2 separate regions of the Homo sapiens genome follow, and region 1 is linked to region 2. The links come from fine-mapping of genetic effects on gene expression. Tissue or cell type: whole blood. Region 2 holds a variant in brackets; the other region holds the start of a gene. All regions are shown on one strand. Distances are from middle to middle.

What was found. PIP is the estimated chance that this variant, and not a neighbour inherited with it, causes the effect.
Region 1: MYL5 starts here. The variant in region 2 is fine-mapped to the expression of MYL5 in whole blood (TOPMed, PIP above 0.99).

The regions. Positions count from the first base shown.
Region 1 is chr4:671,535-676,534 of GRCh38, reverse strand. MYL5 (myosin light chain 5) reads right to left here and starts at 1,993. Exons shown (of 9, transcript NM_002477.2): 1 at 1,852-1,993; 2 at 326-462. It overlaps ATP5ME (ATP synthase membrane subunit e), which reads left to right and starts at 2,259. Exons shown (of 4, transcript NM_007100.4): 1 at 2,259-2,323; 2 at 2,569-2,623; 3 at 3,134-3,232; 4 at 4,016-4,099. The coding sequence starts at 2,288. The coding sequence ends at 4,035. RefSeq lists enhancers at 1,423-1,492, 1,370-2,127 and a silencer at 1,703-1,972.
Region 2 is chr4:693,629-699,264 of GRCh38, reverse strand. No RefSeq gene overlaps it. Among named protein-coding and RNA genes, the nearest start is that of SLC49A3, 7.3 kb to the right of the region's middle. RefSeq lists enhancers at 3,936-4,436, 5,544-5,636. The variant C/T (reference allele first, on the strand shown) is at 3,069.

The sequences.
Region 1 (5,000 bases), 22 kb after region 2:
ACAGCTGACCTGACAGCTGCAGAGGCCCCTGCGGGCGGTGTGCTGAGCCAGGTGGGACCCGTCCCACCACTAAGCTCTCAGGAAAGGCCTTGAGCAAAGGCAAGTCTCCATTGGCTTCAGGGGGTTTTCCCCAGGCCGTGTGTGTTTGCCCGCATGTTTTCTCTGCTGGTGCCCTGCCCCGCCCCACCTCTGGTGGAAGCTGCTGGTATGTCCCCCTCACCCCCTACCTTGGGCCCCAGAGACACTTATTTTTGATTCTGGAAGCAGGAGTTGCTGAGGAGTCTGGATTATTTTAAACTCCAGTGAAGGGAAAACCCATTGTCACCTGAGGCCGTCTGCCCTGGCGGAAGCGGGGGCTTGCCGAGGGCCAAGATGGTTCTGTGCCTTGTGGATCCAGTGTGCACCTGCGGCTTCCTCAGCGAGCAGTAGACACGGGGAGGGCTGGAGTTTGCTTCTGGCCCCCTGAGGACAGGGTTCAGGCAGAGGCCTCAGGCAGGAGTCTTCAGGGACTGCCAGCCAACCTCACAGAAGCTGGAGAAAAGATCAGGTGGCCCTACAGCAAGTACCTAACCTTTTTGGCGCCTGGGACAGGTTTCACGGAGGACAGTTTTTCCGTGTTGGGGAGGAAGGTTTCGGGATGAAACTATTCCACCTCAGTTCATCAGGCATTAGATTCTCACCAGAGCGCAATCCAGATCCAAGTGCGCAGCTCACAGTAGGGTTCACGCTCCTATGGGAATCTGATGCCCAGGCTGATCTGAAAGTGGGTGGAGCTCGGGCAATCATGCTCCCTCACCTCGTCCTGTGCTGCCCGGTTCCTAACGGGCCACAAGCTGGTACTGGTCTGCACCTGGGGGTTGGGGACCCCTGCCCTATAGGACTGGCCTTGGTATACCCAGCTCAGGAAACAGAGCCCAGTGACTTCCTAGTTTCTCAGCCAGAGAGGCCCAGGCCCTGGACCCCAGAGCAAGCCAGGAGAGGGGGCAGAGGCGACTTAGGCCCGGACAGGTAGCCCAGGCCGCCAGGATCACGGGTCCTCCCCATGCTTGCTTCAAGAGTCCTGGAGTTTGTGATGCTGCACCTTAGCGAGACCCGAGCCATAGTTCTCCAGTTGCTTCTGCCTGTAGCAGTGCAGGGCCAGGAGGGGACACAGGAGGCCTTGCGTCACTACTGCATGGGGCCAAAGGGGGCCCGAGGGTGGCCCAGCACGGGCAGCATGGCTGCCGCCAGGAAGACCCAGAACGTGGAGGGGGTGCCAGGCTCCTGCCTAGACTCCAAGCCTGGTGTCCATGGGGCTGGCGGGTCAGCACTTCGGGCACAGCGGGGAGGCTGCATAGGCACCGCAGGCCCCATCTCTGGGCAGCTGTGGGAGACACACAGCTACCGGGAGGTGGACAGAGGCCAGCAAAGACCAGTGTGGGGCTCAGTGGTCCCCAGGCCTGGGCCGGGGCAGGCCCTTGGAGCCGTGGAGTCCTGAGGCCTGGAGTCGGGGGACCCAGGGAGCAGCCTCTGTTGGGGGCTGGTCTTCCCAAGAAGATCCCAGCCCCTCTTCGGGACAGAAGTGATGGGGCATCCTGGGGTGAGGAAGCTCCAGCTCCGGGATGAAGGGCGCCCCGTGCTCCCGGGCAGAGCAGCCGCAGGAAGAGGGGCCTGGAGGCCATGCTCCCGCGGGCCGCGGAATCCAACGCGGCCCGGCCGGCGACAGACACTACTGCCTTGTAGGAGAAGGACCTGCCCGGGGAGCCACCTGCACTCGGCTCACACTCCGCTCCCAGGACCCCCAGGTCCCTGCCCAGGCCACCCTCGGGTGGGCGCGGTCCGCGGGGCTGGACCCGCCCGAGCCGCCCTGACCTCAGGCCTCCGACGCTCCGCGCAAGAAGACAGAGTGCGCCCCGGCCCGCAGTCTGGGGTGTGGACACACGGCCAGGACGCGGACGGCGGGGCCTCGGCAGCAGCGCGGGGAAACAGCGGACCCCCAGCCCTGCGGGGAAAGGAAACCCCCCGCCCACTCGGCGCAGATCCCGCCTCACGCAGCAACTGCGCAGGCGCAGCCGATGATCCTCCGCGCACTCCCCAGCCTTTGTGCGCGTGCGCCTCACGTGACGTCACCGCCGCGCGGGGGCGCGCAGTCACCCTTCGGTCGCCAGGGGGCGCGGCCCCCCGCTCTCTCGCCGCTGACGGCGCATGCGTGCGCCCAGCTCCGCCTTTGCCTCCAAGGCTTTGCTGGCTTGTGCGGCATCCTGCTCCGTCTGCAGGTTGTGCTTCCGGTGCGGAGGTCAGGGACAAGATGGTGCCACCGGTGCAGGTCTCTCCGCTCATCAAGGTGATCCAGGCTTTGCAGCCGCCGCCCAGTGCTCTGGGCCCCCCCGTGTCCCGCCCCGCAGCTCCGACCCCGCGGGCTGCGACCCCCGGCCCCCGCCCCCATGATCCTCGCCCCGTGACCCTCGCCCGGCGACCGGACCCCCACCCCTCCTGCGACCTCTGCCCAGCGACCCCGCCCCCCCTCCTCCCGCGACCCCCGTCCCGCGAGCCCCGTTTCGCGCCGCCTCTGACCAACCTCTTTCGCAGCTCGGCCGCTACTCCGCCCTGTTCCTCGGTGTGGCCTACGGAGCCACGCGCTACAGTGAGTGACCGCGGGCGGGGCCGGGGCGGGGTCTGCTCGGCTTTCCTGTGGAGCTCCTGTGCTATTTGGAGAACTCCAGCTCTGGAAGGGGGCTTGGGACGCATGCGAGGCTGCAGGACCGTGTCCTCCACCGAGCGTGACCCCGATAGTGGAATCAGCTCACCCAAAGCTCAGGCTTCTGAGGCCCGGGCGGGGGACTCGAAAACGGCTGCTTCTTGGTGAAAACGGGTGCTAAATGGCTGTTCGAGTGCTGAGGTCTTGATGGGAGGCAGTCCCTGTTCGCAGAGGACGAGTGAGCCAGTGCGTGAGCGGGTGGGCAGCAGGGGCCCTGTAGCCTCTGGGTTGGACTCGTCAGGGTGAAGGTCAGGCGTTGACTCGCATTAACATAAAGAGCGGGAACAGCAGGTGCGTCTGGTTTACAGCGTCGCTGAAGATACCTTGACCTGTGGACTCAGTTCCTTTTGTACAGCATTTCCAGTGAATTTTATTCTCCTGCATTCCGCCAAACAGATTACCTAAAACCTCGGGCAGAAGAGGAGAGGAGGATAGCAGCAGAAGAGAAGAAGAAGCAGGATGAACTGAAACGGATTGCCAGAGAATTGGCAGAAGGTACGAGTGACACTGGCTCTTATAGATTGTCCCTCCCAGGTTTGTGCAGGGATAAGGAAAATGGAGGAGGACATTTAAGCAGAGCTAAGTAGATGCGGATTGTTTAAAAATGGGGAAGCTGGCCAGGCGTGGTGGCTCATGCCTGTATCCCAGCACTTTGGGAGGCCAAGGCGGGCAGATCACCTGAGGTTAGGAGTTCAAGACCAGCCTGACCAACATGGTGCAACCCTGTCTCTACAAAAATTAGCCGGGCATGGCCCGGTGCGGTGGCTCATGCCTGTAATCCTAGCACTTTGGGAGGCTGAGACAGGCAGATTGCCTGAGCTCTGGAGTTCGAGACCAGCCTGGGCAAGATGGTGAAACCCCATTTCTACTAAAATACAAAAAATCAGCCGGGCATGGTGGCAGGCACCTGTAATCCCAGCTACTCAGAAAGCTGAGGCATGAGAATTGCTTGAACCCGGGAGGCGGAGGTTGCAGTGAGCTGAGATCACGCCACTGCACTCCAGCCTGAGCAGCAAAGTGAAATTCTGTCTAAAAAAAATTAGCCAGGCATGATGGCGGGTGCATGTAATCCCAGCTACTCAGAAGGCTGAGGTGGGAGAATCGCTTTAACCTGGGATGCAGAGGTTGCAGTGAGCTGAGATTGCGCCATTGGGTGACAGAGCGAGACTCCGTCTCAAAACAAAAAAAAAAAAAAAAAAAATAACTGGGAAGCTGAAGTGGTCTTTTTAGGTTGCCTGAGTGGTAACATGTGCTTTTCTTCTAACCTTCCGGCCCAAGATGACAGCATATTAAAGTGAGTGACCCTGCGACCCACTCTTTGGACCAGCAGCGGATGAATAAAGCTTCCTGTGTTGTGTGATACTCCGGCTCCTCATTTGCTGTCGCTGGTTGTGGAATTCCTAGGTTGAAGTTCTGTCCACCTCCCAGTTCACGTGAGGTGGAAGACAGGGAGGGGGTTTCAAAAGAATCCACATTACCATTCACAGACCCAGAATGCATCATGTAAACACAGTGGGAAGGACAGATGCGCGCTGCCTGTTCTGTCTGGGGCATCCAGGTGGGGAGCCCCAAAGGCCGTCTGTAATGGAGTCAGTCAGCTGGGGGCCTCATGAGTACTGGGGTTGTCTTGATTCTGAGTTCTAGGCTGCTGCTCTCAGCAGCCCAGACCCCTGGATGGGGAGGGGTAGGCACTGACTGACGCCCTTACAGTTGGGAAGCTGGGTCCTCCTCCACAATAACCCCTCGCCCCAACCTGCCATTTCACAAATCCTCCCTTTGATCCCAGGAAGTGGCCAGGTCAGACTTGGGACTAAAAGTCTGGTGATGTGACCTCCTGAGCACAGGGCCTGAGTGCTGTTTGAGTTGTGCAGGGAGGTGGTCTTGTGGTGCCTGAGCCACTTCCCTCCCCAGCAGGCTTCCTGGGCTTCTCGCCCCTCCTGGCTGTGAGCTTGCCAACAACCCAAACCCTTGGCCTGGTGGTTTGCAATGGACAGATTGAATTTGCTACTTCCCAGTTATGTGCCTTGAGCAAATCTAGGCTTGGAGCCCCAGTTTGTAAAATGAGTTCGTTTGCAAATATAAGGCCAAAGGGAGAAGCAGCCTATAAGCTTTTCAGGACATTTGGTTAAGGTGAGCTTTGAGTGAGCAAGATACTTTCACATCCTGTCCTGGCGTCCAGAGGGGCTGTTTGCAGGATCCCTCAGAACCTCTTAAGAGCCCCTCATCCCAGACCCAGGCTCTGGATACCAGGGGTCTCTGACCA
Region 2 (5,636 bases):
CAGAGGTTGCAGTGAGCCAAGATAGTGCCACTGCACTCCAGCCTGGGCGACAGAGCGAGACTCCATCTCAAAAAAAAAAAAAAAAAAGATTGCCGCCCTCGCTTGCTGCTTGTGCCGCCTGCCCACCTCAGGCGCCCTTCAGTCTCCTTCCACTTCTCCCTCCAGACGCCAGGCCCCTCTGGGAGCCGGAAGTGCCCGCAGGTGCCCTGCAGAGGAGGCCTCATGGGAGTTTGTTGGGTGAACGCATCAGTGAATGCCTGTTTCAATCAACCAGGTGGAAATCTTGGAAATAAAATTTATAGTCCTGGACACACACGAAAACCAGTCCATGAGGTAATTCACAAACCAGTTGAAGAGCTTGGTGTGGCTGTAAGTGACGCTGCTGAGGACAGGGAGGCAGGGAAGCAGTGGAAGCGCAGGGGAGCCAGGCAGGGCTGAAATCGCAGACGTGATGATCTCACAAGAGCAGAGGAAGAGAGAGTCGTGAGGAGCTTCAGACTTGAGGACTAACCTGACTCTGCAGGTGGAGACGCAAACACCGTGCTAGGAACATGCTCGGACGCCTGGTAGGATGCCGGATATGGGGAGGCAGGACGCCCACAAAAGAGTCAGAAGAACCAGACCCTGAGCAGCTGGCACATCACCAACAACTGAACCCAAGTATCATTTAACCATCGCCGGAGAAATAATTCCAGCCGTTCACCTGTGTGTGTGTGTGTGTGTGTGTGTGTGTGTGTGTGTGTAGTTTTTTGTTTTGTTTTGTTTGTTTTCAGACGGAGTCTCGCTCTTGTCCCCCAGGCTTGAGTGCAGTGGCGCGATCTCGGCTCACTGCAACCTCCGCCTCCCGGGCTCAAGTGATTCTCCTGCCTCAGCCTCCTGAGTAGCTGGGATTACAGGCATGTGCCACCATGTCCGGCTAATTTTTTGTATTTTTAGTAGAGACGGAGTTTAATTTTGTATTTTTAATAGAGACGGGGTTTCACCATGTTGGTTGGGCGGGTCTCGAACTCCTGACCTCAGGTGATCCGCCTGCCTCAGCCTCTCAAAGTGCTGGGATTACAGGCGTGAACCACCGCGCCCGGCCTGTGTGTGCGTGTTTTTACACAAAACTAAAACTCAGCAATGACCACCAGAAAGCTGCGTGTGGTGTGGTGAGCAGGGAGCACGCTCTAAAGCCCCGGCCTGCTCAGAAGAGCCTGGAGACACTGCATGGACTTGGCCTATCTTGGAATAATGTGCAGTTAACTGTGTAGGTTAAACATCGAATGTCAACGGCCAGGCACGGTGGCTCGCGCCTGTAATCCCAGCACTTTGGGAGGCTGATGCAGGCGGATCACTTGAGGTCAGGAGTTTTGAGACCTGGCCAACATGGCAAAACCGTCTCTACTAAAAATACAAAAATTAGGCGGACGTGGTGGCACATGCCTATAATCCCAGTTACTTGGGAGGCTGAGGCAGGAGAATCCTTTGAACCCGGGAGGCGGAGATTGCAGTGAGCCGAGGTCGTACCACTGCACTCTAGCCTGGGCGAGAGAGGGAGACTCTGTCTCAAACAAACTAACTAACTAACCAATATAGAACACACCGCACAAAGAGCATCCAGTGTGGACTTCAGGATGGACTTCGGTTAAGAAGATCGTGTCGATATCGGTTCATCAATCCTAACAAAAGTACCAAACTCATGCGAGATGTAGATAACAGGGAAGTGGAGTGCAGGGTTTGGGGGAGAGAGGGGTATATGGGAACGCCGTACTTTCTGATAGATTTTTCTGTAAATCTAAAATTGCTCTGAAACATAAAGTCTAATAATTTTAAAAAGCAAATAAATGTAGCCAAAGAGTGCAAAACTAATATTCTGAAAGCTACAACTACAAACCATGACCAAAAGAATCTAAAGAAGGTCTAAGTAAATGGAAAGATGTCCTGCGTCCGTGGTGGGAAGACAATATTGTTAAGGTGTCTCCAACCTAATCATTCAACACAATCCATATCAAAGTCCTAATGAGCTTTTTTCAGAAATTGACAAGCTGATCCTAAAATTTATATGGAAATTCAGGGGACTCAGAATAGCCAAAACAACCTTAAAAAGAACAAAATTGGTTGGGTGCAGTGGCTCACGCCTGTAATCCCAGTACTTTCGGAGGCCGAGGCAGGTGGATCACCTGAGGTCAGGAGTTCCAGACCAGCCTGGTCAACATGGTGAAACCCCGTCTCTACTAAAAATACAAATATTAGCCAGACGTGGTGGCAGGCGCCTGTAATCCCAGCTACTCGGGAGGCTGAGGCAGAAGAATCGCTTGAACCCAGGAGGTGGAGGTTGCAGTGAGCTGAGATCGCGCCACTGCACTCCAGCCTGGGCAACAGAAGGAGCTCCATCTCAAAAAGAAAAACAAAACAAAAACAAAAAACAAAGATAGATGCTCATTTCCAACATATTCAATAAAAATTTGATAACATACACAAAGTAGTTATGCCACACTATACACAAAATGTTAGATATCAGTCATACCCACAGAGAAATTAGACACATACACTACACACAGGCATGTGCGCGCGCACACACACACACACACAATACCTACCTGCCAAAAGACAGGCAAAAACATTAAATACCCATCTCAAAGTTTTTTTTTAAATTTTATTTTGAGACGGAATCTCGCTCTGTCGCCCAGGCTGGAGTGCAGTGGTGCGATCTCCACTCACACTGCAAGCTCCACCTCCCAGGTTCACGCCATTCTCTTGCTTCAGCCTCCTGAGTAGCTGGGACTACAGGCTAATTTTTTGTATTTTTAGTAGAGATGGGGTTTCACCGTGTTAGTCAGGATGGCCTCGATCTCCTGACCTCGTCATCTGCCCGCCTCAGCCTCCCAAAGTACTGGGATTACAGGCGTGAGCCACCACGCCTGGCATTTTTTTTTTTTTTTTTTGAGACAGAGTCTTGCTCTATTGCCCAGGCTGGAGTGCAATGGCACGATCTTGGCTCATGCAACCTCCGCCTCCCAGGTTCAAGCGATTCTCCTGCCTCAGCCTCCCGAGTAGCTGGGATTACAGGTGCCTGCCACCACGCC[C/T]GGCTGATTTTTTGTATTTTTAGTAGAGATGGGGTTTCACTGTGTTAGCTAAGATGGTCTTGATCTCCTGACCTCGTGATCCATCCGCCCGCCTCGGCCTCCCAAAGTGCTGGGATTATAGGCGTGAGCCACCGCGCCCAGCCTCCATCTCACAGTCTTAAAGCAGGTTAGACCCTATTGGGAGGCAATTTTCCACACCTCATGTTTCTCCACGGTCCAGGTCCTCAGAGTCACTGAAACCACGTTAAGAATGTTTGTCCAGGCTGTGCAAGGTGGCTCACGCCTGTAATCCCAGCACTTTGGGAGGCTGAGGCGGGTGGATCACTTGAGGTCAGGAGTTCAAGACCAGCCTCGCCAACACGGTGAAACCCCGTCTCTAGGACAAAGACCTCCTCCACCCCTACAACGCCTCCCACCTACCTCTGTCCCTGGAGAAGGCTTACTTACACACCAGAGAAGAGACCAGGTTTGTCTCTCTGGAAGCGAGGATGAGGAGGCCCCCAGCAGCCACATAAAGGAAAAAAGAGTTTCAGCCGGGTGCGGTGGCTCACAGCTATAATCCCAGCACTTTGAGAGGCCAAGGCGGGTGGATCACAGGGTCAGGAGTTCGAGACCAGCCTGGCCGACATGGTGAAACCCCATCTCTACTAATAATACAAAAATTACTGGGTGTAGTGGCACGCGCCTATAATCCCAGCTACTCAGGAGGCTGAGGCAGGAGAATCGCTTGAACCCGGGACGGGGAGGTTGCAGTGAGCCGAGCCTGTGCCATTGCACTCCAGCCTGGGCGACAGAGCAAGACTCCGTCTGAAAAAACAAAAAAGGATAAGAGAGTTTCCTAAACTTGGGGTTCTTCCCCAACATGCACCTGCTGCCTGTCCAAGTTCCACCCACATCGTCCCGTCCACCCACGGGAACTGATGTTTCCCGTGTCCACGTATGTGTGAAATTGGCTGGCTAGCTTGTTAGCTTGTGAGCAGAGCAAAGTCTCAGGCACTTCAAGTCTCTGATTTAACACATGTTCATTTTATAACACACACACACACACACACACACACACACACAAACTCATTTCACACCATGTAGATAAGAAAGTAGATACCTGATCACACAATGTACAAAATATTAGTTAACTATTTAAACCCTACACACACACACACACACACACAAAAATTCTTCTTCACCTTCTTTTTTTTTTTTTTGAGACGAGAGCCTCACTCTGTCACTCAGGCTGGAGTGCAGTGGCAAGATCTCAGTTCACTGCAACCTCCGCCTCCCCAGTTCAAACGATTCTCCTGCCTCAGCCTTGTTTGAAATGCTTGTTCCCCGGTGCTGTAAAGAAATAGCACTGGAACATAAATTTAATTTACTCAACAAGGCCATTTCTTACTTTCTGCAGAAAGGGCACACTCGCCAGCAGTTTTGCCGTGAAGGTACACCGAACAAAGGAGACAGGGTCATTTATAACCTGACGCGTCCCCCCGACTGCTGTGTCTGGTTTCCATTGGCTGGAACGGGACCTCACATTCTGTATTGGTCGCGATTGGCTAGCAACTTAGAACTTTTCAAAAGAGGCAAAGGCAGAGGAGAACAAAGGAAGGAGGAAGTAATTTGTGGAATGCTGAGAAAGGTAAAAACACCTTCAAATAAGGAAGAGGAACAGACTGTGACCTAATGCTTGCTGGGACCAGTATAAGTATGCCAGGGCAAATATTTAGGCTAACTTGTGGGAGCTAAGAAAAAAAAGTACATTCATTTATTTATTATGGCTAGCAGATATTTAAGAATGTTAGCACAGGTCTTTGAATAAATTTTGCTTCTAAGAGAAGTTACTATTTATTCCTAATTAGATGGGGAGGAAAGTTTTTGAAGAGGAAGCTCTACTTAACTTTTTACAGCCTCCCAAGTAGCTGGGATTACAGGCACGCACCACCCCGCCTGGCTAATTTTTTGTATTTTTAGTAGAGATGGGGTTTCACCATGTTGGCCAGGCTAGTCTCAAACTCCTGACCTCGAGTGATCCACCCGCTTCGGCCTCCCAGAGTGCTGGGATTATAGGCATGAGCCACTGCGCCCAGCCCACAGCTTGGTTTATACATTTTAAATAGGCATGAGACATCGATCAATACATGTAACATGTACATTGGTTCAGTCTGGTAAGGCTGAACAACATGAGGAGGTGGAGGGCTTCAGGTCACAGGTAGATTTAAAGATTTTCTGATTGGCCATTGGTGAAGGACTTACTATCTAAAGACCTGGAATCAAACAGAAAGGAATCCCTGGGTTAAGATGAGAGGTTGTAGAGAGCAAGGTTTATTGCAGATGAAGCCTCCAGGGAGAAGACTTGGGAGAGAATAGATGGTAAATGCTTATCAGACTCAAGGAGACTGAAGGTCTCTGTGTTGATGTTTGTGAGGCTGCTCTGATTCCCATTTCCCCTCATGGCCTGAAGCAGTTTTTCAGGATAATTTGGAATGTTGTTGGCCAAGGGGAGGGTCCATCCTTTGGTTGGGGGCTTAGAATTTTAATTTTCATTTACACACAAATGAGAACACTAGGTCCTTCCAC